Regions from separate parts of the Homo sapiens genome. Here regions 2 and 3 are each linked to region 1. The links come from fine-mapping of genetic effects on gene expression. A gene starts in region 1. Each other region holds a variant in brackets. All regions are shown on one strand. Distances are from middle to middle. Region 1 holds the start of MORN1 (MORN repeat containing 1). Region 2 overlaps MORN1 (MORN repeat containing 1). Region 3 overlaps MORN1 (MORN repeat containing 1).

Evidence for each region. PIP is the estimated chance that this variant, and not a neighbour inherited with it, causes the effect.
Region 2: its variant is the best candidate, but not a certain one, in a credible set for the expression of MORN1 in whole blood (TOPMed, PIP 0.60).
Region 3: its variant is the best candidate, but not a certain one, in a credible set for the expression of MORN1 in whole blood (INTERVAL, PIP 0.85).

Annotation. Positions count from the first base shown.
Region 1 is chr1:2,389,828-2,392,581 of GRCh38, reverse strand. It overlaps MORN1 (MORN repeat containing 1), which reads left to right and starts at 1,028. Exons shown (of 14, transcript NM_024848.3): 1 at 1,028-1,124; 2 at 2,586-2,657. The coding sequence starts at 1,049. RER1 (retention in endoplasmic reticulum sorting receptor 1) reads right to left here and starts at 741. Exons shown (of 7, transcript NM_007033.5): 1 at 624-741. RefSeq lists silencers at 456-755, 856-965, 1,096-1,165, 1,326-1,455 and enhancers at 1-869, 738-1,032.
Region 2 is chr1:2,355,467-2,358,220 of GRCh38, reverse strand. It overlaps MORN1 (MORN repeat containing 1), which reads left to right. Exons shown (of 14, transcript NM_024848.3): 10 at 623-789. Among named protein-coding and RNA genes, the nearest start is that of MORN1, 35 kb to the left of the region's middle. The variant G/A (reference allele first, on the strand shown) is at 1,167.
Region 3 is chr1:2,366,109-2,368,862 of GRCh38, reverse strand. The region is part of intron 8 of MORN1 (MORN repeat containing 1); the gene reads left to right. Among named protein-coding and RNA genes, the nearest start is that of MORN1, 24 kb to the left of the region's middle. The variant C/T (reference allele first, on the strand shown) is at 1,666.

The sequences.
Region 1 (2,754 bases):
CCTCTGTGCTGTGAGACACCTGGCAGAGAAACGAACGATACCTTTATCAGTGGGGCCACAGACCAGTACTAAGTCAGCCTGGAGAATTTATGATTTTATTGCCTATTTAGAATACGATCAAAACCGATGTAACTAGTTTCCCTTCAGCCCGTCAGTAACGCCTTCACCCCAGAGCTTAACACTAAATCCTACAGATAAGCGCTGACCTGGACGCAGGATGGGGACAGGGCACATTACTCTGGAATACAGCCCAACTCGCAGCGCTGTGGGGGCCGCGACTGCCCGCTTCCCCCAGATGCCAAGCAGGGGATGCGGACGAGATGCGGCCCGGGTGGCTCGAGGGCTGCAGCCCCCGCCCGGCCCCTCTCCCGCTCCCCCGACCCTCGCAGGCCCCAGGGCTCCGCCGCACCCCCCAGCACCCCGTCCCGGGCCCGACCCCGAGGCGCGACCCGTACCCCTCAGGGCCGCGGGTCGGGAACACGGTCCCCGCGGCCACCCGGGCCCCGACGGCCCTCCCCGCCCGGCCCTCAGCGCGGCCCCGCCCGCCCGCGGCCTTGACAGCCCGGAAGAAGCGGAGGCGGCGCTGCCCGGCCGTTCCCGCGCCACGCAGCCCTTCCTGGCACCTCGCAGCTCCGCTACGGCCGAGCCGCGGTCTCCCTCACGGCCGCGGGAAGGAGGACGGCGGGGCACGGGCGGCCGCAGGCGCTGCGCTCCGGCTCCGGGAAGCTGCAGCGAGCACTTCCGCTCCGTCCTCCGCGGCGCCGCCTCCAGGGCCCCCAAGATGGCGCGAGGGCGGGGCCAAGGGCTCCAACCATTTCCGCTTCCGGCGCAGACGCGCAGGCCGTTGGCGGGCGGGCCTCCCGGCGGAAGAGACGACAGCGGCGGAAACGCGCACAGGCGCAGCTGCGTCCTCTGGCTCCGGGCCCGGCTAGCTTCGCTCCAGAGATTGCGCGGGCTCAGGGACTAGGCCCGTGGCCACACCCCCCCTTGCGACAAAGACCAATGGAAGCGGGCGTTGCTGGTCGCTAAGAGAACCCTCGGCGGCAAGATGGCAGCGGCGGGCGAGGGCACCCCGAGCTCCCGCGGGCCGCGTCGGGACCCGCCTAGGCGGCCGCCCCGGAACGGTAACGACTGCGGGCCACGGGACAGGTCGCTGGCTGCCCTGGGCTCCATTCAGGGTGCGATCGCTCTACGCCCTCGACCCCCAAATGCTCACCTCGGAAAGTAGAGGTCCAGGTGCCGCGGCGGAGCCAGGGCCGCCCCCGCGTCCCCCACTCCCACAGGACTCGCCGTGCGCCTCGGGCTCGGCTCGCACCCTTCCCCGAGCCCTCCTCCCGCAGCAGGCCAAGCCCTGCAGGGGGTCGCCCCCCGCGGGCTCCTAGCCGGGAAGACCGGGTTCCGGCCGCAGCCTCACAGCCAGCGGGACCTGGGGTTGCCATGGGGATCCCGAAGCCCAGGACTTGGGGCGAGGGCAGGCGCAGGAGCAGCACCAAGCCTCCTGACTTCCTGGCCGGTGCTGTCCAGAAACGCTAGGACGCGTTTCAAAAGCAGTTTTTGCCTGTACTTCCAGCACTTTGGGAGGCCGAGGCGGGTGGATCACCTGAGGTCAGGAGTTCGAGACCAGTGTGGCCAACATGGCGAAACCCGGTCTCTACTAAAAAATACAAAAATTGGCCCGGGGTGGTGCCTCCTGTAGTTCCAGCTACTCGGGAGGCTGAGGCAGGAGAATCGCTTGAACCCAGGAAGCGGAGGTTGCAGAGAGCCGAGATCGCGCCGCTGCACCCCAGCCTGGGCGACAGAGCAAGACTCAGTCTCAAAAAAAAAAAAAAGAGCAGGTTTTGATAGGAACTGTTTCTAGAATCAAATAAACGGGTCTGGAATGAACTCAGAGCTAACACTACTATCTTCAGGTAGAACCTGACCCTGATTTGGGACAGATACAGTAGCCTGTAGTAACCCCCTGCCCTCCTCCCCGACATTTTCCCATAAACCCTGCCCACAAAATGTGCCTGAGGAGCTGGTAGGGAGGGAGCCCTGCCCATTCCTGGAACTGCAGGAGTTGGCGGGTGGCACACCCAGCAACTAGGAGGAGATGAAGCCGGCCAGGCCATCCTTGGGTATGAGTGTGGATTTTCTCCCCAGCGATAGGAGGCCACTGAAGGGCCACGGCAGGGGATGGGAGAGTCTGCTCCTCCCCTGTGTGCCTCACTGACACTGCCGCTCTGCCTTCCCCTGGCTCACTCATCTCCTGCAACAAGGCTCCCAACCTGCTCCTCACCACCTCCCGAGCACCTCTGGTCTCTCAAGGACCTGCAGTTGTTTCAAGCCAGCCCTCCTCTTACTGGGCCTGTCTTCTCTGCACCAAGTAGGTCCTCATCCTTGTCACATAAACAAATGAGCAAATGAATGGCCCAACAGTCGACAGGAGAGCTCATGAGCCCCACAGGTCGCCTCTGGTCTGCTGAAGGTGACGTGTACCAACCCCTTGAAGGCCCTCAAGGGAGCTGCACTCCCTCCTTCAGCACTGGAGAGCATCCCTCATCTCTGTGTCTGTGCTTACCTGTGTGTGTCTTCTCAATACTCAGGTTATGGTGTCTACGTATACCCAAATTCCTTCTTTCGATATGAAGGAGAATGGAAAGCAGGGAGGAAGCACGGTGAGAAGCATCTGTGGTCTCTTCTTGCAGCTGCTGCCCCACAGCTGACGAAACCAGTTTCTCCCCGGGAGGTTGGGTGGGCAAGTGGCATTTCCTG
Region 2 (2,754 bases), 34 kb after region 1:
GGGAGTGGCCCTTACCAGCCAGGCCTAGTTGGGCGCCACTCCCCACGCACACATCACCAGGCCTCCCAGGAACACGCTGGACCAGGCCAGTGTGTGCACAAACCCACACGCAAACAGAGGCCTGAGCTGCAGGACTCCAGGAAGAGGCCTCACTCTAAGCCCCGCAACATGAAAATCCATGCATTTTACCATTCACAGTCAGAACTTAGCAGTGCCCCAGGCGACCAGACCTGAGTGTGACGCCACAGCTCTCACACTCCCTTTTCCCACCGGCCCTTCTCCTGAGTTAAGGACTGTCTGACATTTGGGGTAAACTTGGACCCACTGTGAAGTCAGAACGCACCCGAGAGGTGACGCTGCTGGAGTTGTCATAAATAATAATGGGGGCGGCAGGCAGCTCTTCCTTCAAGCCAAGACCTGCTGTCTTCTCCCTGGCGAGTCTTTTTTCTCTCTGGGCCTCAACTGGCCCCATCCCAGCAGGAGACCTCCCAGAGAGGCTGAGTAGCGCTCCCTGGACTCAGTGTAGGCAAGTCCCAGGGTCCAGGGCGTGGGCCACGCTGTCTGCCTGCACCCTAGTTTGGTGTGGGGTGAGTAGAGCCAAGCTGCCCCCATTCCTTTGCAGTGGGTTCGAATGCATCCCTTATCCTGTGTCCAGCCCCGCAGCTGGGGTGCCGGGGCCCAGAGCTGCCAAGGGAGGGGCAGAAGCCGACGTGCCCCTGCCCAGGGGAGACCTGGAGCTGCATTTGGGTGCCCTCCATGGCCAGGAGGACACCCCTGGTGGCCTGCTTGGTAAGTGGAGCTCACAAACCAGTTGGGGGTGGGTGGGCCCAGGCCCAGCAGTCAAGGTGGGGGTGGGGTCATGGGGACCCAGAACCAGGCCAGAGCAGGAGCAAGCCGCACCCAGGGTCAGTCATCACGCGTGGGTGAAAGGAGGCAGGGCCGGGCAGCCCACATCCCCAGACAAGCAGTCACGGGTGGCTGCGGAGGCTCAAGCCGATTGTTCGTCTGCCGTGAGCCTGGCAGGGGCTGCAGCCTCGTGGGGTCCTCAGGGCAGAGTTCTGGGTCTACTTGGCTGAGGGCAGCAGACTCACCCAGGCCTCGAGGCCAGTGGCCAGCCTGGACACGGCCCCAGCCACTCCTGCCGCCCGGGAGCCCTCACAGCAGCC[G/A]CCGGCCATGGCTCTGGGGGCCGCGGCGCCGACTGCTCTCTCGAGGTCAGGGTTTCCCGCTGCTCCGCTTCTGCACGGGTTGCCTCACGTTTCTTCGTGGAGATGAGGCCCAGGTGCTCCGGCAGAACCCCCCAGCCCCCAACTCTGCCCCCCAAGGCTGGGGCCAGTGAGAACTGCACTTCCATAGAATGTGCGGCCTAGACTTCACAGGGATCATTCCAGAGTTACTCATGGAGTTGAATCAAAGCTTAATCCCTCCGGTGCAGCGAGCAGTGCACATCAAACCCTCCTGTGCAGTGAGCAGTGTGTGCGATTCAAACCCTCCCGCGCAGCACAGTGTGCGTCTCAGTGCCGGACTGAGGGAACAGTCTTGACAGCGTTGGGAGGCCCTGGGGTGCTGCCGGCCACCGGGTCCTTCTTGCCACAGCCCTGCACCCCAAGGCTCAGTAAACGGGGGTCGGGCGTGGGGGTCCCCACTGGACAAATGCCTGGCACTTTGAGTTTGGGGGCCTTTGAAGAGGGCCCAGCTGACAGCTGAGGTTCCCGGTCCCCAAAGCTGGGATCTGAGCCTGAGGTGCTGCTTGGGGAGGACACAGGCCGCAGGTTCCTGGGTTGAGGAGCACAGGGCAGATCTGAGAGGCTGTGCTGAGCCCAGATCCACAACTTAGCAGGGGTGGGCTGTGTGCCACCACCTTCCACATGCAGATAAATGTCCCAGGTTTGACGAGACGTCCCTGGTCATCCCCAAATGCGCCTCATATGCCAGCCCTTGTCACCTGCCTTGGCCGATGCGAGCTCAATCCCTGCCATGTCCCTGCCCAGCCCTTCCCACCACATGCAGCCCCAAGTCCCCTGAAGGCCTCTCCCCAGGATTTGCACAGATGGCACCACCAGGCGGCCGTCGCGCCGCCTCCCCAAGTGCCAAGGCCTCTCTACTCTAGACCTGAGCCCCACCTGCCGCCCCTGAGTCCTCACAATCCCCCGACCTGGCTGCCGCACTGGGGTGATCCCCCAACTCCAACCCTCCAGGCCCCTGGGGCAAGCAGGCAGGGCCAGCCCCTTCCCAAGCCGGAGTCCGGTGAGCCTTGGCCTGGACCCCCCTTTCCTGTCCCTTAAGCCAGCCTAGCAGGCCCCAAAGCCTCCCTCACATCTTCCTGCCCAGGGTGTGCCTGTCCCAAGGGTGCCGCAGACCCCAGCCCGGCCAGCCACACTGCCTTGTGAGCTCAGCTCAGCTCTGGGCTCTCCTGCAGTGAGACAGGGCTGAGGGCTGAGGGGCGTGGTTGGCAGGCTGTGCCAGGGCCCTTTCTCCCGGGCACTGTGTGGCCTGTGACCCTCCTGGTCACTGTCTGCAGCAGTCCCTCTCAGCGGCCAGCACTCCTGGCCGGTCACTCGGCCCCGAGTTCTCCCTAAGGTTCCGTGACTCACATGGCTGAAGTGGGAGAAAGCGGCAGCGGAATGCCCCTGGCCGCCCTGGGAAGAGCCTCCGCCACCAGGGCCACCTCCATGCCCGTGCCCCTGCCCCCAGAAACCTCACCCAGCTGGTGGCTAGAAGCCCCAGAGCCTCAGAGCCTCGGGGGTCTGTGCTTGC
Region 3 (2,754 bases), 24 kb after region 1:
ATGGTCTCCATCTTCTGACCTTGTGATCCACCCGCCTCAGCCTCCCAAAGTGCTGGGATTACAAGCATGAGCCACCGTGCTGGCCTGTCTGTCTTTTGGATGTAGCCATCTTTGTGGGTGTGAAGTGGTGCCTTCTTGTGGTTTGGATTTACATTTCCCTAAAGGCTAATGATGTTGAGCATCTTTTTGTGTGCTATGGGCCATTTGTAGATCTTAGTTGGAGAAATGGAGATAAGAGGCAGAACTTGACTCCAGAAGTGGGGCTCAGACACAAGACCAAATTGAGGACTAGATAAAACAGGGTCAGGGAGGAAGCAGCCTTCCATAAGACACGCCCACCAACGCATCATGCCAGTTTACCATCACCATGGCAACACCTGGGAGTTACCACCCCTTTCCATGGCAATGGCCTGATGACCCAAAAGTTACTGCCGCTTCCCTAGAAATGTCCACATAAACCACCCCTTGATCTGCACGCAGTTAAAAGTGGGTATAAATATGACTGCGACACTGCCCTGAGCTGCTGCTTTCTGCCTGGGGGGCAGCCCCGCTCTGCAGGAGCTGTAGCCCTGCCGCTTCCATACCTCCCATTCACCCTTAAATCCTTCCCTGGCCAAAGCCAAGAACCCTCACAGGCTAAGCCCTGCTGTAGAGCTCACCTGCTCTGCATCAAGATGTCGTAAGAGTTCTTGACATATTCTAGACACAAGCCCCTTATCAGATATCTAATTTGCAAATACATTTTTCCATTTTGTGGGCAGTCAGACAGTTTCTTGCTGGTGTCCTTTGAAACACAAAAGTTTTAAGTTTCGATGAAACCCAATTCTCTCTTTTTCTTTTTGTTGCTTTTGATGTCATATCTATGAAGACTTTGCTTAGTCTGGAGTCATGGAGATTTACTCCTGTGTTTTCTTTTAAGAATTTTATATTTTTAGGCCAGGCACGGTGGCTCACGCCTGTAATCCCAGCACTTTGAGAGGCCAAGGCAGGTGGATCACCTGAGGTCAGGAGTTCAAGACCAGCCTGGCCAACGTGGCAAAACCCTGTCACCACTAAAAAATACGAAAACTAGCTGGGCATAGTGGCGGGTGCCTGTAGTCCCAGCTACTTGAGAGGCTGAGGCAGGGAGAATTGCTTGAACCCAGGAGGCAGAGGTTGCAGTGAGCCGAGATCACGCCACTGCACCCCAGAGCAAGACTCCATCTCAAAAAAAAATGACATATTTTTAGCTCTTACATTTAGGACTGTGAACCGTTCGGTATTAATCTTTTTGTTTGGTGTAAGGAAGGGGTCCAACTGCTGTATATTCCTTTGAATGTGGGTATCTATTTGTCTTAAGATCATTTGTTAAAAAGAGTATTCTTTCCCCAATTATCTTTTTGTTTGTTTTTGTAATTTTTTTTTTTGTAGAGACAGAATCTCACTATGTTGCCCAGGCTGGTCTCAAACTCCCAGGCTCAAGCGATCCTCCCACCTCAGTCTCCCAAAATACTGGGATCACAGGCATAAGCCACCAAGCCTGGCCTTTTTTCTTTTTCTTTTTTTTTTTTTTTTTTGATAGAGCAATGAATTATCTTGTCCTTCAGTTTGCTAAAGTTTTTTTGGGAATTTCTGCATCCCTGTTCGTGAAGGATATTGGCATGAAATTTTCTTTTCTTGTAATGT[C/T]TTTGTCTAGTTTTGCTATCAAGGTAATGCTGTCCTCATAGAATGAGTGAATTGGGAAAAATTCTCTCTTCAATTTTCGGGAAGAGTTTGTGTGCACTTGAGAAGAATGTGAATTTTGTTGTGTACAATATTTTATAAATCAGGTCAATTTTGTTGATATTATTGTTTTTCTACGTATTTTTCTATGTATTTTTCTATGTGTTTTTCTATGTATTTTTCTATGTATTTTTCTATGTATTTTGTTGATATTATTGATATTCTGTGTATGTATGTATACTATGTCCTTGCTGATTTTCTGTCTGCTTGTTTTATCAGTTATTGAGAGTAGCATATTGAAATATCTGACTATGATAGATTTGCCTTGCTGGGTGCAGTGCCTCATACCTGTCATCCTAGCATTTTGAGAGGCTGAGGCGAGCACATCACTTGAAGTCAGGAGTTTGAGACCAGCCTGGCCAACATGGTGAAGCCCCATCTCTACTAAAATCTCTACTAAAAATACAAAAATTAGCCAGGCATGGTGGTTCACACCTGTAATCCCAGCTACTTGGGAGGCTGAGGCAGGAGAATTGCTTGAACCTGGGAGGCGGAGGTTGCAGTGAGCTGAGATCGCACCACTGTACTACAGCCTGGGTGACAGAGCAAGATCCTGTCTCAAAACAAGCAAACAAACAAAAGATTTGCCTATTTCTGCTTTTATTTTTTTTTTAATTTTATTATTATTATACTTAAAGTTTTAGGTACCTGTGCACAATGTGCAGGTTAGTTACATATGTATACATGTGCCATGTTGGTGTACTGCAACCATTAACTGGTCATTTAGCATTAAGTATATCTCCTAAAGCTATCCCTCCCACCTCCCCCCACCCCACAACAGTCCCCAGAGTGTGATGTTCCCCTTCCTGTGTCCATGTGTTCTCATTGTTCAATTCCCACCTATGAGTGAGAATATGCGGTGTTTGGTTTTTTGTTCTTGCGATAGTTTACTGAGAATGATGATTTCGAATTTCATCCATGTCCCTACAAAGGACACGAACTCATCATTTTTTATGGCTGCATAGTATTCCATGGTGTATATGTGCCACATTT